Linked DNA regions of Homo sapiens: all the other regions are linked to region 2. The links come from fine-mapping of genetic effects on gene expression. A gene starts in region 2. Each other region holds a variant in brackets. All regions are shown on one strand. Distances are between the middles of the regions.

What was found.
Region 1: its variant is fine-mapped to the expression of NCBP3 in whole blood (TOPMed, PIP above 0.99). The same link has a PIP of 0.9 or more in blood mononuclear cells, monocytes after LPS, monocytes after Pam3CSK4 and tibial nerve.
Region 3: its variant is fine-mapped to the expression of NCBP3 in whole blood (TOPMed, PIP above 0.99).

Annotation. Positions count from the first base shown.
Region 1 is chr17:3,819,077-3,827,258 of GRCh38, reverse strand. NCBP3 (nuclear cap binding subunit 3) reads left to right here. Exons shown (of 13, transcript NM_001114118.3): 5 at 1,044-1,172; 6 at 1,416-1,492; 7 at 2,209-2,317; 8 at 5,207-5,306; 9 at 5,907-6,010. Among named protein-coding and RNA genes, the nearest start is that of ITGAE, 22 kb to the right of the region's middle. The variant C/T (reference allele first, on the strand shown) is at 4,340.
Region 2 is chr17:3,842,914-3,851,095 of GRCh38, reverse strand. It overlaps NCBP3 (nuclear cap binding subunit 3), which reads left to right and starts at 4,850. Exons shown (of 13, transcript NM_001114118.3): 1 at 4,850-5,055; 2 at 7,945-8,010. The coding sequence starts at 4,873. RefSeq lists silencers at 4,562-4,681, 4,862-5,151.
Region 3 is chr17:3,737,376-3,745,557 of GRCh38, reverse strand. ITGAE (integrin subunit alpha E) reads left to right here. Exons shown (of 31, transcript NM_002208.5): 19 at 1,941-2,069; 20 at 5,680-5,753. Among named protein-coding and RNA genes, the nearest start is that of HASPIN, 18 kb to the right of the region's middle. RefSeq lists an enhancer at 7,469-7,763. The variant G/A (reference allele first, on the strand shown) is at 4,627.

The DNA of each region.
Region 1 (8,182 bases), 24 kb after region 2:
GTTCTGTTCCAAGTAGTTTAAATATACACAACTCTTTTTCATGGAATACTTAAGTTATTTTGTGGAACCCAGTTTGGAAACGCAGCTCTAGGCTAATTTCATCAGAGAGATTTTACTACCCTTTTCTTTCTTTTCCCTCCCCTTCCCTTCCATCTTTTCCCTTCCCCCTTCCCCTTTCCCCCTACCCTTCCCCCTTCCCTTTTCCTTTCCGTTCCGTTCCATTCTGTTCCATTCCTTTTGTTTTTTCTTGACAGAGTCTCGCTCTGTCGCCCAGGCTGGAGTGCAGTGTGGCATCATCTCGGCTCACTGCAAGCTCTGCCTCCCGGGTTCACGCCATTCTGCCTCAGCCTCCCGAGTAGCTGGGACCACAGGCGCCCGCCACCACGCCCGGCTAATTTTTTGTATTTTTAGTAGAGACGGGGTTTCACCGTGTTAGCCAGGATGGTCTCGATCTCCTGACCTCGTGATCCGCCTGGCTCGGCCTCCCAAAGTGCTTTCTCTCTCTCTCTTTTTCTTTCTTTCATCTCTCTCTCTCCTTCCTTCCTTCCTTCCTTCCTTCCTTCTCTTTCTGTCTCTCTTTCTCTTTCTTTCTTTCTTTTTTATTTATTTTTAACTTTTCATTTCTTTTGAGACAAAGTCTCACCCTGTTACCCAGGCTGGAGTGCAGTGGTGTGACCTTGGCATACTGCAGCCTCAATATCCTAGGCTCAATCCATTCTCCCACCTCGGCCTCCCAAGTAGCTGGGACTACCGGCTCATGCCACCATGACTTTTGTATTTTTTTGTAGAGACAGGGTGTCACTATGTTGCCCAGGATGATCTCACTCCAAGCGAGTCTCCTGCCTTGGCCTCCCAAAGTACTGGGGTTATAGGTGTGAGTCACCATGCCTGGTCTATATTTCTCTTCATTAGTTGGTTTGTATATTTACTGATGATAATCTGTTGCTAGATGAGGCTGTAGTGATGAATGCGATGCAGAATCTGCTCTCAAGAAGCTTACCATTTCCATGCTGTGTAATGTCTTATTTTACATTTTATTTTAGGTAATGTAGTTTGGCTGGATGAAATGACAGCCACACGAGCACTTATCAATATGAGCTCCCTGCCTGCACAGGATAAGATCAGAAGCAGGGATGCCAGTGAGGACAAGTCAGCTGAGAAAAGGAAAAAAGGTAACAACACAAAGGAGGGAACTGGGGTCTGAAAGTCCTCTTCTTTACACAGTCCTGTTTCTGAGCAGAGCTCTATATAGCATCTCATCACCAAGTGTTTCTGAACTAATCTATGATGCTTGAGATCATCAGGAAATAGGAGAAAATACTGGACTTTTAAAATTATATGAGATAGTTCATCTTGTATCTCATTATATGAAATATTTTATCTTGTTTCATCTTGTCCTTCACATTCCATTTTAGACAAGCAGGAAGACAGTTCAGATGATGATGAAGCTGAAGAAGGAGAGGTTGAAGATGAGAACTCAAGTGATGTAGAGGTTAGTAATAGGGGAAAGATAGATGTAAAGTTATTGTAAAAAATTGCTCACTGTCTTTTTAACTTAAGCCTTAAAGACTTAGTTACGTTTTTTCTCTAGCTTTCACCATTAGACCTTCTGAGGGTGCACCAGGCTCTTGTCCTTTAAGTTAGTGTGGATATAGCGATTCACCTTGAAATCTTAGAATAGTGCTTATGCTTCTACAAAAAAAGAAAATAGTTTTATTGAGAAATACTTTGAAGTGTTATCTAATTAGTAAAATGAAGAAACAGCAAGTAATGGCATACTTCCTAATGGATTATGTACTGTTGTTAAAAATATTAACATGCATTCATTTAAAAAATATTTACTGAGTACCTATTATATACCATATTCTAAGTGCTAGGGATATAGCTTCAAGCAAAACAAAGTCCTGGCCCTCTCGGAGCCTGCATTCTAGTGGGGAGTGCAGAGGATACACTGATGCACAGATATCTCATACTGTGTCAGGTGGCAATGAGTGTTGTGAAAAGAGTAGGGGATAGAGAATGATGGAGACTGTTCTTTTAGACAAGGTGGGCAGGGGAAATCTCTGAGTTAGAAATTCTACAGCGGAACTAGTGCTATAATGCTTGTAAGTATTAAAGGTAGAATGCTTTTCTTAATGGTAGCTTTACTACTGAAGAAATATCAAAAGGACTTTAATTTTTATATTAAAAATACTCTTCTTTCTTAAGTTGGATACGTTGTCTCAGGTAGAAGAGGAGTCTTTGTTAAGAAACGATCTTCGTCCAGCTAACAAACTTGCTAAAGGAAATAGGTTATTCATGAGATTTGCTACAAAAGGTAAATGTAATATTTGGTATTGTTTTATATTTTCAATCAAAATGATTTATTATGGAGTGACATCCTTCTTTTTTGAATAGAAGTTAGATCAAGTAATCTCAAAGTTCCCTTCAAACTATAATATTCTGCGCTTATGAAATAATTGCTTGCCACCTGAGTTGGAATTTCTGACTTTAAAAGTGAATATTAACTATTTGTATATTTCTGTGACTTCTGGCTAAAGTTATTTTCTGTTGAAACTGGTTTGCCTCATATATTTTCAGCCAGTTACCATCTGAATTATGAAAACTTTCAAATGAAACTTTATTTATTACAGCAACGTCCTCCTGAACATTGCCAGTGTACCATTCGGTTCTAATTCCCTTCTCATAAGATTGTTTACACATGGTGACTTTTGGTGGGCATTTAAAAATGTGTGTGTATGTGTATATATGTATGTGTATGTATGTGTATATATGTATATGTATGTATGTATCGCGTGTATGTGTGTATGTATGCATGTGTATGTATGTATATGTATGTATGTGTATGTGTATATATGTATGTGTGTGTATGTATATGTGTGTGTATGTGTATGTGTGTGTGTATGTGTGTGTGTATGTATGTATGTATGTATATGTATTATACACATATACACATATTGGTTTTTTTAATCATTTGAGAGTTAGTTGAAGATAAAAACCCATCACCCCTAAATGTATTCCAAAGAATAAGAACATTGTTTTATACATAGCACACTTAACAAAATCAAGAAATTTAACATTAATACAGTACTGTTACCTAATCCGTAGTCGATTTTCAAATTTTGTCAGTTGTTCCAATAATGTCCTTTATATATTCCCCGCCCAGCCCCAGGTCTAGGATCCATCCAGGACTGAGTGTGTAAGTATGTAATGTTTCCTTAGTCCCCCTTAAGCTGAAACTACTTCTATCCTCCCATGTTTTCCAAGAATATAGGTTTACTATTTTATACAATGTCCCTCAGTTTGGGTTTGTCTGATGATTCCTCCTGATTGAATTTGGGTTGTGCATTTGAGACAGGCGTGCCACAGAAGCGATGTCATGTCATTTCCAGAGCATCATGTCAGGAGGCCCTGGATACTTACTCGTCCCAGTCCTAGGGACGTTCACTTTATTCACTTGGTTAAGGTAATCATCACTAGGTTTTTCCACTGTAAAGTTGCTATTCTTCCATTTGTAATTTAAAAATTGGTGGGCTGGCTGGTTACAGTGGCTCGTGCCTGTAATTGCAACACTTTGGGATGCTGAGGCAGAAGGATCACTTGAGCCCAGGAGTTCGAGACCAGGCTAGGCAACATAGCAAGACCTCATCCCTATTTTAAAAAATAAAAAAATGATTAAAATAAAAAATTGGTGGGCAGATACTTTGAGATCACGTAAATAGCCTCTTGCTCATCAGAGCTTCATGCCTTTCTGACTATGTCATTTCTTTACCAGTAGACAGGTGCTCTAAGGAAGAGCCTTCTGTTTTTACCTGTTTGTTTATTTACATCAGTTTAGAATCATGGATTCTTTATTCAGTGGGTTATCATCCATGGATATCAGTATTTAATTTTATTTATTTTTTTGTTTGTTTTGAGACGGAGTGTTGCTCTGTCACCAGGCTGGAGTGCAGTGGCGCGATCTTGGCTCACTGCAACCGCTGCCTCCCTGCAACCTCTGCCTCCCTGCAACCTCTGCCTCCTGGGTTCAAGCAATTCTCCTGTCTCAGCTTCCCTAGTAGCTGGGACTACAGGTGCATGCCACCATGCCCAGCTAATTTTTGTATTTTTAGTAGAGATGGGGTTCACCATGTTGGCCAGGATGGTCTCGATCTCTTGACCTTGTGATCCGCCCGCCTCAGCCTCCCAAAGTACTGGGATTACAGGCGTGAGCCATCGCGCCCAGCCTAATATCAGTATTTTAATTTACAAATTGTCTTGGATTTGGCCAGTAGAGCCCCTTCAAGCTGTTTTGACATACTCCATGATTCTTTAAGCACTTTCTTTCTTTATGGCACAA[C/T]AAAACATCTTGCTTTTCCAGACTCATTTTGCATCTTACCTGCTCCACATCTGGAATCAGCCATTTCTCCAAGGAGCTGGTGGGCATGGTTTGAGGGGTTCGGGGGTTGGGGGCTATACATACTGGTTTGTGTTGTCACGTTTACCTACAGCCCTGGATATATTTACAGTGGTGTTTGTTCTTTACAGTCAGAGTGTCCAAGAACTGTGGAAGGTCTTTGTATTACTACTTTTGACAAAAATTTATGATGACTGACCACCTTTCTTTCCTGTTAACTGACATTTCAACTTGACAAATGTGATCTTTACCACATTTACTCATTTGAGTGGCTGAGTACATTCTACATGTATAGTATTATGCTGTTTTCTTTAAGCCATTTTGAGGAGCACAATAAACTGGAAAAATGATTTACCAAATATATGGAATTATATGTAGTCTGTTTCCTTAATCCTGATGCTGTGTTGTTGGCATGTGATCCTTCAGAAGTGAATATCATCTTTCATGGGGTGGCAAAAATGCCACTATTTTGAGAAAGTCTTTTTGATTCCTGGGTACCTGTAATGACCTAAAGCTCTTTTATGCCTTTTGGAACCTTGTATCTTGTATTGTTTATTTTTGTTTTCTCCATTAAGTCATCTGGCTCCAAACAGCAGTTTTAACCTCATTCGTCTCTGTATTTTGCTTTATCCCCTCTACACTGCATTGCTGTAGTGGGCACTCAGAGTGTGAATGTTGGTAGTGGATTTTTACTTTTTGTTGGCAAATTGCGCTGATCTGATTCCAGCTATGGAAAACATTAAAAAAAAAATTCAACATTGTCTTTACACTCACAGGAAATCCTAGGTAACTATTGTCATTAATTTTTAGATGACAAAAAGGAACTTGGAGCAGCCAGAAGAAGTCAGTATTACATGAAATATGGGAATCCAAATTATGGAGGCATGAAAGGAATTCTTAGCAATTCATGGTGAGTCCAAAACCTTCAAATGCAATAGTATTTGAGTTTTTCTTAATCCTTCAGTTGGTATTCCGTGGTGAAATGTCTAAACCCTGTGTAAACTGGAAGGAAAACAAGAGGGAAGAATTCAAGATTCTTAGATGTGGTAAATGATGGGGAATGCTGAATTGTAGTTACATTTAAAATATCTGTGTTAGTACCTAACATTGTGTCAACGTGTAGTTGAAATGAATTAGCGAGCCCAGACATGGTGGCTCACGCCTGTAATCCCAGCACTTTGGGAGGCCGAGGCCAGCAGATCACCTGAGGTCAGGAGTTCGAGACCAGCCTGGCCAACATGGTGAAACCCCGTCTCTACTAAAAATACAAAAATTAGCCATGCATGGTGGTGGGCGCCTGTAATCCCACCTACTCGGGAGGCTGAGGCAGGAGAATTGCTTGAACCCAAGAGGCAAAGGTTGCAGTGAGCTGAGATGGTGCCATTGCACTTCAGCCTGGGAGAGAGATTGAGACTCCATCACAAAAAAAAAAGAAAAGAGAAAGAAATAGTGGATTTCAAGGTCCTTCCTATCAGTTTTTGATTGTGTGCTTATTTTGGCATTCTTGCAGGAAGCGAAGATATCATTCCCGTCGTATTCAGCGGGACGTGATCAAGAAGAGAGCCCTGATTGGGGATGACGTTGGCTTGACGTCGTATAAACATCGACATTCTGGTAGTTGCCTGCTCAGCTCTTGGGTAGACACATGTTTGGCTCCTGAAATCATATTTTTATTCTTAATGCAATCTTTTAAGGTTCCAAACTTTATCATCCTCTCTTCCTTGCCCTCACCCTCTGCCAACATATAGGAAAGTAAGTCAAGTCACAATTAATTTTAAGTTGCCCAAAGAGGTCAAATGATTTTATAAAAGCTGTTCTATCAAAAAAGGCAAAATATGACATAGGAAAAATTAAAACAAAACTTTCCTTAGGATCCTAATTTTTCTACTATTAATATCAACAGCTGCATGAAAACAATTTTTTTTTTTTTTTTAAGACGGAGTCTCGCTCTGTCTCTCAGGCTGGAGTGCAATTGCTTGATCTCGGCTCACTGCAACTCTGCCTCCTGGATTCAAGCAATTCTCCTGCCTTAGCCTCCCGAGTAGCTGGGACTACAGGCATGCGCCACCATGCCCAGCTAACTTTTGTATTTTTAGTAGAGATGGGGTTTCACCATGTTGGCCAGGCTGGTCTCGAACTCCTGACCTTGTGTTCCACCCACTTTGGCCTCCCAGAGTGCTGGGATTACAGGTGTGAGCTACCGCGCCTAGCCAAAAACAATTTTTGAAATTATTTTATCAGATGAACTGATTGTATTGTTCTTTTTCTGTATTAAAAATAGGCTGCTGTGTTGAGTGCTTTGTGCTTGTTGGTTTGTGCATGTGAATGCCTCAGAAGAGTGGGATATCATGACTTGGGTTTCTTTCTCCTTTTTTTGGTGCTTATTGTAAAAGAACCATTTTATTTATGTTTTATAAAGAATTGTTCTTGTTTTGAGCCTAATCTATGGAATCTTCTACATGCCTAATAGAACTAGTCAAGTCAGCATACAAAATAACATATACACACATTTATCATTGTAATGGGGACAGAAAGGGATGAAGTCTAGATGTTTTATTTAATGTGTATATACAAAATTGTATATTTGAGATCTACATGTTAATAATACACATAGGATGGGAACAGTGGCTCACACCTATAATCCCAGCACTTTGGGAGGCCAAGGCAGGAGGATCACTTGAAACCAGGAGTTTGAGACCAGCCTGGGCAACATAGTGAGACCTTGTCGTTACAAAAAATTAAAAAATTAGCCAGACCAGGCATGATGGCACATACCTGTGGTCCCAGCTACTTGGGAGGCTGAGATTGCCTGAGCCTGGAAGGTCAAGGCTGCAGTGAGCCAAGATTGTGCCACTGTATTCCAACCTGGGCGACAGAGCAAGACTTTGTCTCAAAATAATAATAATAATACACATACTTTACTGTTACACAGTTACACTTTTCCAATTTGAGTTACTTTAAAATATTTTCATCATATACTTTTTATATCCATATTAAGGAAATTAAAAAGCAAATTGCCCCTATTTCTAGTACCCTGTATGATGACTGAGTTCATCTTACATTTTTCCCATTTGTTTTCATAATAAATAGTATAACTCTTGGGAACATGTACTTTATATTCTACTTCTTTCGTTTATTGTATTTTTCCATTTTCATTATTCATGGTGCTTATGTTCTATAAAGTCACTGTGAACACTGAAGTAGCAAATACTGAATCGTACATAGCCTCTGGCCACATCATTTTTGTCAGTTGATCAATATGTAACCTTGTTTTACATATGTTTCTCTCTTTTTTTTTTTTTTGAGACAGAGTCTTGCTCTGTTGCCCAGGCTGGAGTGCAGTGGCGCGATCTCGGCTCACTGCAACCTCCGCCTCCCGGGTTCACGCCATTCTCCTACCTCAGCCTCCCGAGTAGCTGGGACTACAAGCGCACACCACCATGCCCGGCTAATTTTTGTTGTATTTTTTAGTAGAGACAGGGTATTAGCATGTTAGCCAGGATGGTCTCGATTTCCTGACCTCGTGATCTGCCCACCTCGGCCTCCCAAAGTGCTGGGATTACAGGCGTGAGCCACCGCGCTGGGCCCATATGTTTCTCTTTAAGACACCTTATTTAAGACACATTGTTGATTCGTTAACATTGAGTTCACAGCCAGTAGCCCTATAACTCATGCCTGAATGCCTTACCTGATATGGTATTTTTCCACAAGGCACATCACAGCCCCCTTGCATCTAGGAACACTAGGCAGCACTTCGGCACGACACTCAGGGCCATTTTAAGCAGT
Region 2 (8,182 bases):
ACTCGGGAGGCTGAGGCAGGAGAATTGCTTGAACCCAGGAGGTGGAGGTTGCAGTGAGCTGAGATCCAGCCTGGGCAACAGAGAGAGACTCCACCTCAAAACAAACAAACAAAAACAAGAATTTAGCTAGGCAGTGGATGGGGCACATAGATACAGTGCCCCCACCAGGGTCAGCTGCCTCATGACCTCTTCTTCAACCACGGAAGCTTTTCCTGAATGACTGATGGGCGTGCGCATGTTGCAAGGACACTCATGAACCGAGGAGTGTGAGGCGTGCAGGTCGCGGGCACCCAGCTTCAGACTGCACTAAAGAACATCCCTGCTTCAATCAGCAGGGCATCAGCTCAGGCAAGTGCACCAGGTTACCAGCCCTCAGGGAGCATCTGATTTCTCCTGAGGAGCTCACATTACCTTTCCACGGCTTTTCCCTGTGCCACTCCAGGGGAAGTAGGATTCCATTATTTTTATTCCCCTCCTTGCTGGGTAAGAGAGGAAGGAATAAGCAGAGGGAGAGGGCTGGGTGTGGTGGTTCACGGCTATAATCCCAGCACTTTGGGAGGCCAAGGTGGGAAGACTTCTTGAGCCCAGGAGTTCAAGACCAGCCTGGGCAACACGGTGAAACCCTGTCTCTACTAAAAATACAAAAATTAGCCGGCCGTGGTGGCACATGCCTGTAATCCCAGCTACTTGGGAGGCTGAGGCAGGAGAATCGCTTGAGTCCGGAAGGCGGAGCTTGCAGTGAGCTGAGATTGTGCCATTGCACTCCAGTCTAGGTGACAGAGTGAGACTCTGTCTCGATAAATAAATAAATAAATAAATAAAGGAGAGGGAGTGACCAATTTCAATGAAAGAAATCACAGAAAAGGAACCCTTTAGAAGAGCCTGTTAATATCCTCCCTGCCCTCTAGCCTACTTCTCCTGAGAGTTGTGTACACTGGCTCAAATCTCCCCACTAATGTGCCTTCCCCTTCATGGACTCTGCTCTCCTCAAAGTCACCAATGGCCAGCAAACCTCTAGACCCAAAACAAGTTCCATCGTGAACTTATGGCAGAACATGACACTTGATCACTCCCTTCTTAAAACTCTCTCTCCAGTCTGTCCCAATGTCCCATTCCCCTGATTTTCTCTATTAATTAAAAATTTTTGCCGGGCGCAGTGGCTCACGCCTGTAATCCCAGCACTTTGGGATGCTGAGGCAGGTGAATCACAAGGTCAGGAGTTCAAGACCAACCTGGCCAAGATGGTGAAACCCCGTCTCTACTAAAAATACAGAAAGTCGCCAGGCATAGTGGCACGTGCCTGTAATCCCAGCTACTCGGGAGGCTGAGGCAGAGAACTGCTTAAAACCTGGGAGGGGGAGGTTGCAGTGAGCCAAGCTCGTGCCACTGCACTCCAGCCTTGGCAACAGAGTGAGACTCCCATCTAAAAAAAATATATATCCAGACTTTGGAAACAGAAAAAGGAAAATGCCCTGTTGGTACTGTGCCAGGTGTTATCTGCCTGGGGAACCATCTGATTCTCTACAGATGTATAGCTTTGTCTGACTTCTTATGCACTATTGATTAGGGTATTTTACAACTGAGAGTAGAGGTTTATAGAAAATTCATAACAGGTGGCTGGGTGCAGTGGCTCACGCCTGTAATCCCAGCACTTTGGGAGGCTGAAGCAGGTGGATCACAAGGTCAGGAGATCGAGACCAACCTGGCTAACACGGTGAAACCCCGTCTCTACTAAAAAAAATACAAAAAATTAGCTGGGCATGGTGGCAGGCGCCTGTAGTCCCAGTTACTCAGGAGGCTGAGGCAGGAGAATGGCGTGAACCCAGGAGGCGGAGGTTGCAGTGAGCCGAGATCGTGCCACTGCACTCCAGCCTGGGTGACAGAGCGAGACTCCATCTCAAAAAAAGAAAAAAAAAAAAGAAAAAAGAAAATTTGGCCGGGCGTGGTGGCTCACGCCTGTAATCCCAGCACTTTGGGAGGCCGAGGCGGGCAGATCACGAGGTCAGGAGATCGAGACCATCCTGGCTAACACGGTGAAACCCCGTCTCTACTAAAAATACAAAAAAGTAGCCGGGCGTGGTGGTGGGCACCTGTAGTCCCAGCTACTCGGGAGGCTGAGGCAGGAGAATGGCGTGAACCCGGGAGGCAGAGCTTGCAGTGAGCCGAGATCACACCACTGCACCCCAGCCTGGGTGACAGAGCGAGACTCCATCTCAAAAAAAGAAAAAAAAGAAAATTTATAACAAGTAAATAATTCTTGTCCAGTAGTAATGCAAATGTTTTCTGTCTGGTGGTAAAGGGAGTCCTGGAGGTTATCGTTTCTTGCCTTACAGGACATTAACTTGCCTTGTCAAATTCATCTCAGCATTCCTTTGACTGACCAACCACATATTCATTCAAGTTCCCCTTCAAACTATTCTTCATATTTCTACTGGTTTCCTCATTTTCTAATGACTGGGTAACAGCTTTGACATGTGTTCATTTTACATCTGTTTGAGAGTCATGTTTTTCAACTTTTTGAAAATCAGCCCTTACCACCTTCCTAAATTCTCTGTGTCTCCAACTCAGCAGGCTGCATCGCGAACAGGAAAGGGGATGGGAGATGGTGACTAAGGTGACCACAAAGAGCAAGGCACAGAGGGCTTTCCTGACACGCGCCTAGGAGCCTTGGTGTTTGCCTGATGTCCCGGCTTGTCCTGGACTCCTCATGTACCTGCCGGCTGGTGTGCCAGGGTGCTGGGGCTCTTCTGGATGGCACTGAACTGCAACACTGAATCCTCACCGAATTGCGTCCTCAAGCAACAAGGCATCCTCCCCAGCAGGGTGAGGGGCCTGCCCAGCCTTCTCTACTGGCCTCCTGGTGTCCATAGCTGAGGAGGGATTACTTCCTCCTCTCCCATCCCCTAACCCCACAGGCCTAGTAATGGTGGGGGCTGTGACTCTTACCTATAGCTGGCCACCCCAACTACACATTTTGTTTGAAATTAAACACACACACACACACACACCCGTACATATTCTATGTATGCATTCAACCCATTTTTTTTTTTTTTTTTTGGAGACGGAGTCTCGCTCTGTCGCCCAGGCTGGAGTGCAGTGGTATGATCTCGGCTCACTGCAACCTCCACCTCCCGGGTTCAAGTGATTCTCCTGCCTCAGCCTCCCAAGTAGTGCATGCCACCATGCCCGGCTAATTTTTTTTTTTTAGTAGAGACACGGTTTCACCATGTTAGCCAGGATGATCTCGATCTCCTGACCTCATGATCTGCCCGCCTTGGCCTCCCAAAGTGTTGGGATTACAGGCATGAGCCACCGTGCCCGGCCTCAACCCAATTTTTAAAAGTACTTTGTGTCCCATTCATCAAATAAAACTAGTCCTCTAAAGAGCTCTGTCTTGTGTTTATCCTGTGGTTTAGCCCAAATTTAAGAAAAACTGTGATGTACTGCACCCCTTCTGTTGGACCCTGTATCTACATATAAATTATCACATTTAACCCTCACAACCTCCTTTGTAGGTAGGTAATGGTCCATTTTACTGATGAAGGAACTGAGACTCCAAAGTGCTAAGCAGCTTGCCTAAGGTCACACATGGTGGATGGGGCCCGGCCAGCCAGCTCGAAACCCAGGTGTGTCTGATGCTGACCATGCTCTTCCTTGGTTTATCATTATTTGCTCCTCCATGGTCAGAGCTGGTAGGGCCTCAGGGCCTCAGAGACTGTAGGGTCTCACCTATGCCCTCCTCAGATGGGAAAACAGACCCAAAAACCTGTCCAAGGTTACCCAGGGAGGAAGATGCAAAATCAGGACTCAGGCCGGGCGCGGTGGCTCATGCCTGTAATCCCAAGACTTTGGGAGGCCGAGGCGGGTGGATCGCTTGAGGTTAGGAATTCGAGACCAGCTTAGTCAACATGGTGAAACCCTGTCTCTACAAAAAAAAAAAAAAAAAAGAAAGAAAGAAAGAAAGAGGAGAGGGAGGAAGGAAGGAAAAGAGAAAGAAAGAAAAGAAGAAAGAAAGGAAGGAAGAAAGGAATAAAGAAAGAAAGAAAGAAAGAAAAAGAAAATCAGGACTCAGAACAGCAGCTGATCAGTGACACCCTCGGGACGCGTAGACAACCCCTCTCCCCCACCAGGCTCTCGTTAGAAATATCCGCCGGAAACTATGCTCACAGGTCTACAGTGGATGGCACCCTCAGGAGTCAGGAAATCGGCGTCCAAGTTCTGGCCTTTGGGCAGGTCTCTCCCTCTTGGAGTCTCAATTTTTGTGTATGTAACATGGGCCAATTTTGGGGAGACTTTTAAGAGACAAAGACTGGCAAGGCAAGTAACTTTATAAACCTACAGATTGTCCAGAGGTGATATATCAAGGCTCATTGTAAACTCTGGAAGACTTAGATCCAGCTTTTATCCCTTAAATGGCGTCACCTTGGGTCAATTTCTATGCCTCAGTTTCCTCATATATGAAATGGGGGTCAAAATAGGATCTACTTCATAGAGTTGTTCTAAGGGTTCGAGCGCTTGGAAGTGTCTGGCCCATAGTGATCACTCAGGAAAGTTGGCTTTTAGTACAGCTTTAGCCTCAAGGCGTAGCTACATTGTAACCCTTGACTACCCCGGTCTCCTCCAAGCTCCGTAGTTCCCGCAGGCCCCGCCCCCGTCCCCGCTCAGTCCCGCCTTCTCCTCCCCAGGTCCCGCCCGCGCAGCCGGCCCGGTTTTCTCCCGCCACCAGGGGGCGGCGGCGCTAAGGGCGGCCTTCTGGGCCGAAGCCGGCGACGCTCTAGGTAGCTGCGGCGGCTCCTCTGTGGCCAGTGGCAGCGGCGCTCTAGCCGGCGGCCGTGAGGGGCGGGCTCTCAGTGGTGCGGCCGGCAGGCAGCGATGGCGGCCGTACGGGGCCTGCGGGTGTCGGTGAAGGCGGAGGCCCCGGCGGGGCCGGCCCTGGGGCTCCCGTCCCCTGAGGCGGAGTCCGGTGTTGACCGTGGCGAGCCGGAGCCCATGGAGGTGGAGGAGGGCGAGCTGGAAATCGTGCCTGTGCGGCGCTCGCTCAAGGAACTGATCCCGGTACGGGCGGGGGTCGGGGGGTAAGGAAGAGGTCGCGGGGCTAGTGTCTAGCGCCGGAGGGGGCCGGAAGGGGCGGTGGCCGGAGCCCCAGCCGGGGAAGTCAAGGGAGCGGGAGAGGAGGGAGCCAGCGTCCTGGGAACGGGAACGCCGGGCTGGAGGAGGGACGCGGAGCGGGAGAAAGGACGCCGGGGCGCCGGAAATGGGTGTTGAGGGGGCTGGGGGGTGGTGGCGGAGAGCTGGGAGGGAGTTGAGGACCCCCCTCCGCTGCCCCCTCTGAGCCGCGCTGTGCAAGGAGGTGAGTGAGGAGGGGCTGGAAGGATGAGATAAAGGGGGAGCCCTGGGCGGGAACAGAACCAGGGGCAGCCCAGAAGGAGCTGTTGGGTGGCGCCAGCAACCAGGTCTCCTTGTGGGTCTTGCCCCGGAGGAATTTGTATCTGGGAAACATGGCACTCGCTCTTTGTCTTGAGAGGGCTGCACTTGTCAGCAGCAGAAACTCACTGTTTCTGTCGTGACTTCGGGGTCATCTTGCCCCCCCCGCAGCTCCAGTGACACCTACACCGTGGCCCCAGCATCTGACTCTTAATGAAAGCAAACTAGCAGACGACCAATAGACATCCTTGGTCCCTCCTTTACCGCGCTGGGGATGGTGAGAGGTGTTTTGCTTGTGACTTGGTGGCTGTATATCCAGTTCTCAGAGCTGGTTTCAGGCCTGGATGACTCCTCTTAATTTCTCACCTAACATGAATTACTTTTGACCACATGTCAACATATTTAGACTGAAGTTATGGAGAAAGGTTAAAGTATGATCGCTAGAGATGGCAAACGTTATAATTATGATTAACAACAGCTAATATAGTAGCATTTACCATTCACTATATTGTGTCACTTAAATATACTGGCCGTGCACGCCTTTAGTGCCAGCTATTCAGGAGTCTAAGTTCCAGACCAGCCTCAGCAATATAGCAAGACCCCTTTGAGGTCCCCCCTTTCCCCTCTCCCCATCTCAAAAACAAAACCAAAATAAATAAATATTACTGCAGTTGTGAAGCAGGTGTTATCATCCCTTTAGTCATTCAGTTCAACATGGTTTTTGTTTTGTTTTGTTTTGAGACGGAGTTCGCTCTTGTTGCCCAGGCTGGAACGCAATGGCGCGATCTCGGCTCACCGCAACTTCCGCCTCCCGGGTTCAAGCCATTCTCCTGCCTCAGCCTCCTGAGTAGCCAAGTACAATGGCCTGATCTTGGCTCACCGCAACCTCCGCCTCCTGGGTTCAAGCTACTCTTCTGCCTCAGCCTCCCAAGTAGTTGAGATTACAGGGATGTGCCACCGTGCCCGGCTAATTTTGTATTTTTAGTAGAGACGGGGTTTCTCCATGTTGGCCAGGCTGGTCTCGAACACCTGACCTCAGGTGATCCGCCCGCCTCTGCCTCCCAAAGTGCTGGGATTACAGGCCTGAGCCATTGCGTCCGGCCAACATGTATTTATTGCATCCCCCGCTATGTACCAAGGCACAGCCCTAGGTGCTTGATCAAGCTCAACCTCCCTCCTGGAGTTTATGTTCCATATAAACTCTAAATGACAAAAAGCCAATCTTGTGAAGATTGAAAAGGAGTTCCCCCAGCAGGGCCAGTAACAAGCACAGAGGCTCTGGGATGGGTCCAGGATTGTTGGAAACTTCTGTAGTACTAATGGAAGGGCAGTAAAAGAGGTCAGGAAGGCAGGTAGATACCACAGAGGAAACTGAGACCCAGAGAGGTCAAGAAAACTATACAGTGTCCTGTAATTAGTGACTGTCAGAGCTGAGGCTTCAGTCCTCGCTTGGTTTCCAAATCCCATCCCCTTTGCATTGCACTGTGCTGTATTTGCCTCAGGAGTTCTAGGTGAGGCTGGACCTTCTGCGTTGAGGTGGAGGGTTGTGCTCCACCTGGTGGCTGGGCATGAGGAATTCGTTCAGACTGGGTTGGGGAGCTAAGTGACTGTGCCTTATCTTTTGACATTTTCCACAAAAGCCTTTAGATTTTCTTTACATGGATACTTGGAGTTGATGGAATCACTTCAGTTTTTGGACAGGCTCTGATCTTCTTATTGGAGTGGTTGATTGATACCATGGAATCACTAGGATGGGGCTTCTTAATAAAAGGTTGTCAGGGGTGGGGAAGGGTTTTGAAAAGAGTGGCTATTCAAAAAGAACCAGACTTGCCAGGTGTGGTGGCTCATGCCTGTATCCCAGCACTTTGGGAGGCTGAGACAGACGGATCACCGAGGTCAGGAGTTTGAGACCAGTATGCCAACATGGTGAAACCTCGTCTCTACTAAAAATAAAAAAATTAGCTGGCGGTGGTGGCACATGCCTGTAATCCCAGCTACTCAGGAGGCTGAGACAGGAGAATCGCTTGAACCCAGGAGGTAGAGGTTGCAGTGAGCCGAGTTTGTGCCACTGCACTCCCGCCTAGGCGATAAGAGTGAGACTCCATCTCAAAAAACAAACAGAAAAACAGAAAGAACCAGACTGGTTGTGATGACTCACACATGTGATCCTAACACTTTGGGAGACTGAGGCAGGAGGACTGCTTTAGCCCAGGAGTTGGTGACCAGCCTGGGCAACATAGGGAGACCCTGTCTCTACAAAATAAAAAAAAAATTAGCTGGGCATGGTGGCATATGCCTGAGGGCCCAGCTGAGGGGGAGGATGGCGTGAGCCTGGGGAGTCGAGGCTGCGGTGAGCTGTGATCATTCTACTGCACTCCGGCCTGGGCAACAGAGCAAGACACTGTCACCAACAAAAAAAAAAAAAAAAGGAAAAAAGAACCTGCAGATGTCAGGCCGACTTTTATTATAGGTTTTTCCTCAATTGCTGTCTGAATTTCTCACCCTTCCCCTTTGTGTTAGGACACGAGCAGAAGATATGAAAACAAGGCTGGCAGCTTCATCACTGGAATTGATGTCACCTCCAAGGTAAGACAGGCTATGATTTATTTATTCAGCTTGATAAGCAAGTGAACTTAATGAATTTGATCCCTAGGACATAACAGTAAATATTTCCTCTTTTATTTTGTTGCTGGATTTAAATTTTTTTTCTAAAAAAAATTGTGTTATTGGCCAGGCACGCTGGCTCATGCCTGTAATC
Region 3 (8,182 bases), 110 kb after region 2:
CCAGCCGGGCCAACACGGTGAAACCCTGTCTCCACTAAAAACACAAAAATTAGCCGGGCGTGATGGCGGGTGCCTGTAATCCCAGCTACTCGGGAGGCTGAGGCAGGAGAATCGCTGGAATCCAGGGGAGGGAGGTTGCAGTGAGCCGAAATCATGCCACTGTACTCCAGCCTGGCCAACAAGAGCAAGACTCCATCTCAAAATAATAATAATAATAAATCAAGAACCACGTAATGGCACGGAAGATGGAGATGCTGTCATTGCTGACGTTTTTCTTGGTAATAACTCAGGAATGCCAGTGTTCTTGGCATGCGTTATCAGACCTCACCTGATAATAACTAGGACCGAGGGCCTGAATGTCAGTTGGCATCAAAAAAGTGAACAACTAAAAGGAAGAATAAAAAGATAGAAACGACCATCTAGAAAGGTTTACTCCTGGCAAAGGTGCCCAGAGACATGGGGTAAAAAAAGTATGTCGGGACTCAAACCCTGACAGGATCTCGAACTTTGGATCTATATGGATCGTTTATTCCAATAAACAAATGCATGAATTCTTCTTCTGAATACACATTTACCCCCAAAGTGATTGTTAATTGGATTAAAGTCTACAGCCTTCCTTAAATAAAGGCTTAATCACATTCTCTACCAGAGAATCATGCTCACTTTCTCCCATGGGCTTGAGGCTCTTATAGGGGCAGAAAGGCTTATTTAAACAAAGAGAGTGGCAAATGGTATGCTAAGCAATCTCCTTATCTTCTCTCTTACCTCTCTAATATGTCCTCCATGTTGCTTTGAGAAAGATCTTGGTTGGTTGGGCGCAGTGGCTCACGCCTCTAATCCCAGCACTTTGGGAGGCCGAGGTGGGAGGATCACCTGAAGTCAGGAGTTCGAGACCGGCCTGACCAATGTGGTAAAACCCTGTCTCTACTAAAAAAAAATACAAAAATTAGCCAGGCGTGGTGGCATGCACCTGTAGTCCCAGCTACTTGGGAGACTGAGGCAGGAGAACCTTGAACCTAAGAGGCAGAGGTTGCAGAGAGCCAAGATCGAGCCACTGCACTCCAGCCTGGGCGACAGAGCGAGACTCCATCTCAAAAAAAAAAAAAAAAAAGAGAAAGAACTTGATAAACCCAGGTGTGGCTGTGACTCTTCCCTTCTGTCTGAGCCAGTTCTTTACCCCTTTGTGACTGGGATAAGAACCATAGCAGCTATAGACACAAAACCGTAGTAGAATGAAGGAGATTTTTCCCAAAGCACTTGGCAGCTTGCTTGAAGGACGTGTCCCTTCAGCCTGGCTTATTTGGAAGATGCTTAGGACTTCTGACTCACCACTTTTATTGTTTATTTCTTCTTATGATGACATCAAAGTAGAAAGTATTCTTGCAAGGTGCGGTGGCTCATATTTGGAAATCCCAGCACTTTGGGAGGCCAAGGTGGGTGAATTGCTTGAGCCCAGGTGGTTGAGGCTGCAGTGAGCCATCATGGTGCTGCTGCCCTCCAGACTGGGTGACAGAGTGAGTGAGACCTTATCTTAAAAAAAAAAAAAAAGAAAAGAGGCCGGGCGCGGTGGCTTACGCCTATAATCCCAGCATTTTGGGAGGCTGAGGCGGGTGGATCACTTGAGGTCAGGAGTTCGAGACCAGCCTGACCAACATGGCGAAACCCTGTCTCTACTAAAAATACAAAAATTAGCCAGGCGTGGTAGCACACACCTGTCATCCCAGCTACTCGGGCGGCTGAGGTAGGAGAATCGCTTGAACCCGGGAGGCGGAGGTTGCAGTGAGCCGAGATCACGCCACTGCACTCCAGCCTGGGCAACAGAGCAAGACTCCATCTCAAAAAAAAAAAAAAAGAAAAAAAGAAAAAGAAAAAAAGCATTATTGTTGTCATCTTCTCCCCCACATCCAACTCTAACCCTGCCTTCCGTGGTGACCCCACAGCTCTGTGAGGAGGACTGCTTCTCCAATGCCAGTGTCAAAGTCAGCTACCAGCTCCAGACCCCTGAGGGACAGACGGACCATCCCCAGCCCATCCTGGACCGCTACACTGAGCCCTTTGCCATCTTCCAGGTGACTCTACCCACAGCCAGTACCCAGCCCTCTTAAGAGCCTATCCCACAGAAACCACCTGCTCCCCTAACTTCCAAGAATGGTGGAGTTGGGAGGCAATGTCTTCAGACGGCATTTGGGCCCCTCACCGTACTCATGGTGAAACTGAGTCCCTGAGATGGTGTTAATGTGTCCCCGTGAGTGAGGACTCATGGGTAACGCAGGTCTCCATCTGCCCCTGGGGCTTGTTCCTTTATGTCTTTATGTTCACAAAAGCACTTGCTACATCTTTCATGAGGCACATGCATACATTGCATCCTGGGGACCTCACTTGGCAAGCGGCTCTGATGACGCTGTGATGGGGGTTCCTTGTGGGAGCTAGACTGGAGCTGTCGTGTCTTGCACTGCAGAGAGGATGCCCTTTGGCACACCTGCCTGTTCATGCCCTGCCAGGGCCTTCAGGCTGAATGGCCCCACCAAACCTGTATCCTAGCCTCTCCTCCTGGTGCCCATCAGTGCAGCTTAGACAGGCGGGTAGTGTCATAAGAAACTTTTGTCAGCCGGGCGCCCTGGCTGATGCCTGTAATCCCAACACTTTGGGAGGTTGAGGCAGGTGGATCACCTGAGGTCAGGAGTTCGATACCAGCCTGGCCAAGATGGTGAAACCCTGTCTCTACTAAAAATACAAAAATTGGCCGGGTGTGGTGGCATGGGCCTGTAGTCCCAGCTACTAGGGAGGCTGAGGCAGGAGAATCATTTGAATCCTTTGCCCAGGAGGCAGAGGTTCCAGTGAGCCAAGGCCGTGCCATTGCACTCCAGCCTAGGCAACAGAGCGAGACTCCATCTCAAAAAAATAAAAAATAAAATAAATTTTAAAAAATACAAAGATTAGCCCAGTGTGGTGGTGCATGCCTGTAGTTCCAGCTACTCAGGAGGCTGAGGCAGGAGAATTGCTTGACCCCGGGAGACAGTGGTTGCAGTGAACCGAGATCGTGCCACTGCACTCCAGCCTGAGTGACAGAGAAAGACTCCGTCTCAAAAAAAAAAAAAAAACCACAAACCTTCAATATATATTTCCTAAAAACAAAGGCATTGTCTTAACATAGTACAATAATCAAAATCAGGAAATTCACATTGATAAAATACTATTATCTAATTTACAAACTTTATTCAAATTTTGCCAGTTGTCCTATTAATGTCCTTTATAGCAAAAGAAAAAAAAGGTTCTGGTCCAGGATCATTCATAGCGTTCTACAGTTATTTATCTTTAGTCTCCTTTAATCTGGAAGGGTTTCTCACTCAGTCTTCCCTTGTCTTTTAATGACATTAACATTTTTGAAGGGTACAGGCCAGTCCTTTTGTAGAATGTTCCTCAATTTGTCTGATATTTCTTCATAATTAGATTCAGGTTATACATTTTTGTTTTGTTTTTGAGACAGAGTTTCGCCCTTGTTGCCCAGGCTGGAGTGCAATGGCGTGATCTCGGCTCACTGCAACCTCTGCCTCCCAAGTTCAAGCAATTCTCCTGCCTCAGCCTCCCGAGTAGCTGGGATTACAGGCATGTATCACCATGCTCGGCTAATTTTTGTACTTTTAGTAGAGACGGGGTTTCACTATGTTGGCCAGGCTGGTCTTGAACACCTGACCTCAGGTGATCTACCCTCCTCGGCCTCCCAAAGTGCTGGGATTACAGACGTGAGCCACCATGCCTGGCCAGGTTATGCATTTTTGTCAGGAATATCACAGAAGTAAAGTGTGTCCTTCTCAGTACACCATCTCAGGAGGCACCTAATGTGGACTTGTCCATTCCTAGTGCTGTTTGCCTGTGTCATTAATAAGCACGTCTCATTTTATGGTGAGATGCCTTGCGATTGTATCCTGCTTAACATCTCTTTATGTGTCTTTCCTTAACCAGTGATGACTATTATGCTATGGCAAAGAGATTTTTAAAAAGTTATTCCCCGTATAAAATGGGTGAGGAAAAAACCACGTGGTATTAGGCACATCGGTGTTACCAGAGAGTGCGTTCTGGCTGGGAGTTTAGATGGCTTAACCCCATTCTCTTTCACTGGGGCTGGGTGGAAGAGATCAGGCTATGTGGCTATATTAAAAATACAACAAAAGGCCGGGCGCGGGGGCTCACGCCTGTAATCCCAGCACTTTGGGAGGCCGAGGCTGGCGGATCATGAGGTCAGGAGATCGAGACCATCCTGGCTAACACAGTGAAACCCCGTCTCTACTAAAAATACAAAAAAAAAAAAAAAATTAGCTGGGCGTGGTGGCGGGCAGCTGTAGTCCCAGCTACTCGGGAGTCTGAGGCAGGAGAATGGCGTGAACCCGGGAGGCGGAGCTTGCAGTGAGCGGAGATTGCGCCACTGCACTCCAGCCTGGGCGACAGAGCGAGACTCCGTCTCAAAAAAAAAAAAAAAAAAAAAAAAATACAACAAAAAACCCTGCATGAAACTGTTGACCCACTTAGAGAGAGCGCCACGCTTTGACTTCTGCAAATGGCATCCCCCTTCCGCAGGAAGTAGAAAGTTCCCTTTCAAGCCCTGGGCTGTCATTCCCCCTCTAGGCC[G/A]TGGGAACAGACCTGCAGACAGCTGCCGAGGTGGCCACCGGGAGAGAAGTGCGAAGTGCAGAGGCTCTCCAGCCGAGGAGCTGGCTGCCTTCCTTCATAATACAAAAACAGACCCAGCTACTTTAGAACACTGGAATTTTTAAAAACACGAACTGGAGCTTTTCAACCTCCATGGGGCCTTTTGAAATGTGGCTTTCAGAATTAGTCGATTATGTGTAGGCAAGGGAAATAGTTAGCTTACAGAGACGACTAGCCAGGCCGGGCGCGGTGGCTCACACCTGTAATCCCAACACTTTGGAAGGCCAAGGTGGGTGGATGACCTGAGGTCAGGAGTTTGAGACCAACCTGGTCAACATGGCGAAACCCTTTCTCTAATAAAAATACAAAGTTAGCCAGGCGTGGTGGCACATGCCTGTAATCCCAGCTACTTGGGAGGCTGAGGCAGGAGAATCGCTTGAATCCGGGAGGCAGAGATGGCAGTGAGCCGAGATCGCGCCATTGCACTCCAGCCTGGATGACAGAGCGAGACTCCATCTGAAAACAAACAAACAAACAACCGAAAAAACAGATGACTAGCCATGAGGAAGGAACCTCCAAGGCCTGGACCTTGACGATATTTGGCTAGGCATCCCCCACTCCTGCCCGGGCTGTTCTGCCTATATCCGAAAGGACTAAGGAAGCTTCTCTTCGCGTAGGTGTCTGCTCCCTGAATGCTCAAAGTCGTGAGCTGTGTGTTGCTGCTGAATTCGCATGATGTAAATGTCATGGGCACCCCTAACATTCCGTGAAGGTCACCCCAGTTTTTACCTTGGTCAAAGGACTGGGTCACAGTGTGCCCATGTTATAGGACAGATCCAGGAATGTCACCCAGGAATGTCACAGTCCCTGCTCTTCGGGGACAATCCCAGCCTGCACCCCTCACCTCCCTGTAACTGCACTTCTCAGGGTGAGCAGGAGGCACAGCCCAAAACTTCCTATAAGGAGAAGAGCCGGAGGCAGGGCTGCTGGGGAAGGCGGAGCCTGGGCTGATCGGGACTCTCTGTCTGGTTACAGCTGCCCTATGAGAAGGCCTGCAAGAATAAGCTGTTTTGTGTCGCAGAATTACAGTTGGCCACCACCGTCTCTCAGTGAGTTGGACATAGCCGTCAGTTTCCTCGATTAACCTTCTCCCGAACGCTTGCCTGGGCAATTCCTTCATTAGGACACCCTGCACATCCCCTTCCCCTCTCCCCGTGGCCCACAAATGGCTTCTGCACTTATTATCTCAATATGTCCTCAGCTACCCCAGAAGGGAGGCAAGACAGAGATCTGTCTTCCCACTTTCTAGATTAGGAAGCAGACTCAGTCGCCGAGGGCCCTGCATAGGCCATTTGGTGGACTTGAACCTGGGTCTCTTGACATCCCGGACAATGCTATATTCAGAACCCAGCGTTCTTCACAGCCAGGCTGACCTCTACCTCAGTTAGAGGTAACCTCTTTCCCGGCCCACCTCTTGGCCAAATTAACTAATCAATCAAATATTTCTGGACCATCTACTTTGTGCCAAGCACTCTAGGTGCTGGGGATACTTCTGTGAACAACACAGACAAAAATCCCTGCCCTCCTGGTGCTCTTAGGGGGAGAAGATGGTAAGTAGGTAAATTCCATGTTGATGAGATGAACGTTGAAGACACAGGGAAGGTGGGAAGGAGTGTTGGGTGGCAGCTGATGCTGAAGTTTTCAATGGGGTGGTCACGGAGGGTGACACTTTGGCACACACTGGAGGAGGTAGGGGAACGAGCTATGTGGTTGGGTGTCTAAGGGAAGAGCAGCTGCAGGTACCCTGGGTTGGAAGCCTGCCTGGTGGGTGGGGGGCAGGGTGAGGAGCTAGTGGCTGCAGTGGAGTGGGGCGGGGTGTAATGAGGGAAGGGGAGGAAGGGGGAAGAGGCCATGGGGCTTCTTAAGCCCTCAGAAGGGCTTTTGCTGTGAGCTGGGAAGTCAGAGGAGTGACACACTCATGCAGCTTAGCAGGATCCTTCTTGCTGCTTAGCTGAGAAGAGAAGCGGCACTTGCTCCCTTTGTAACCACTCAGGTGAGAGGCGGTGTGGGCTGGGCCATGACGGGAGTAACAGTTTAAAGTGACAGCTCATACGTAGCACGTGCTGACAGAATGGAGGCGGAGGGAGGAAAGAGGGCCACAGCCCCAGCATGCGGCACTGCACTGTCCAACACACCAGCCACGCTTAGCTGTTTACATGTACATGAGTTAAAATTAATCACAATGAAACATTTTGTTCCTCAGTCACATTAGCCACACTTCAAAGACTCAGTGGCCGCCTGTGGCTGGTGGTGTTGGGCAGCGCAGATACCGCCTGTCTCCATCGCTGCAGACGTTCTATTGGACCACACTGAATTCCAGAATGACAGTGTTGCCAAGCACATGAGTGTGGGTTTAGACATGTAGTGGTCTTAGAATGCCCCCCAGGCCGGGCGCGGTGGCTCATGCCTGTAATCCCAGCACTTTGGGAGGCAGAGGTAGGCGGATCATGAGGTCAGGAGTTTGAGACAAGCCTGGTCAACATGGTAAAACCCCGTCTCTACTAAAAATACAAAAATTAGCTGGGCATGGTGGTGGGCGCCTGTAATCACAGCTACTGGGCAGGCTGAGGCAGGAGAATCGCTCAAACTCGGGAGGCGGAGGGTGCAGTGAGCCGAGATCGCTCCACTGCACTCCAGCCTGGGTGACAGAGCAAGACTCCAAAAACGGGGAGGGGGGGAGGGTAACAAAACAAAACAAACAAGCGTCCTTGGCGACTAGTGTTGTGTATGTATTGTGATTCTGTTGGCCAGCTGGCTGGAGTTGCCGTATATGGGGAAGAACGCAGTTCCCCAAGTCCTGGTCAGCCCTTTCATAGACATTTGCAGGACCAATTGAAGACTTTCAAATGCTCTGGAATCCAGGCTAACAAGCAGGCACAGCTGTTTCCAGCAGGGAATTAATTACAGCCAAGAACCAACCTCCCAGCCAGCTACTGGGGGTAGTAGAGATACAGCACGCATGGCTTGCCCTACATCGCCCCCTAGTGTACATAGCAAGCAAACGCTTCTCTTTCAAAAACGCTAGTGAGCCTGGTCGTCGGTGTCCAGCTGTCTCAGTGGTTTTTGACCTGAGGACATAGATCCCCAAAAGAATCTAATGAAGACTACAGACCCCTCTCCTTAGAAGATCACATGTGCATACATAAATTTTGGCATTCCGGGCCCTCTGAGACGGTCCCTAGGCCTCAGATTAGGCAACGCTGTTAATATTCTGATGACACTGAGGTCTCACGCCTGAGCTCTAAGATGTGTGTCCAGCTGACATGTCAGCATCTCTGCTTTGTTATCCTATATGCACCTCTTGTCATGTCCCCGATTGAACGCATCTTCTTCCACCCTTGGGTCTTCCTCCCATGTTACCTCCCTCAGTCAATGGCACCACTCAGCCACCGGCACCACTCAGCCACCGGCACCACTCAGCCACCTGAGCTAGAAACTCAGAACTTGCCCTTAACTCCTCTGTCCCCCCTCCCCTGCC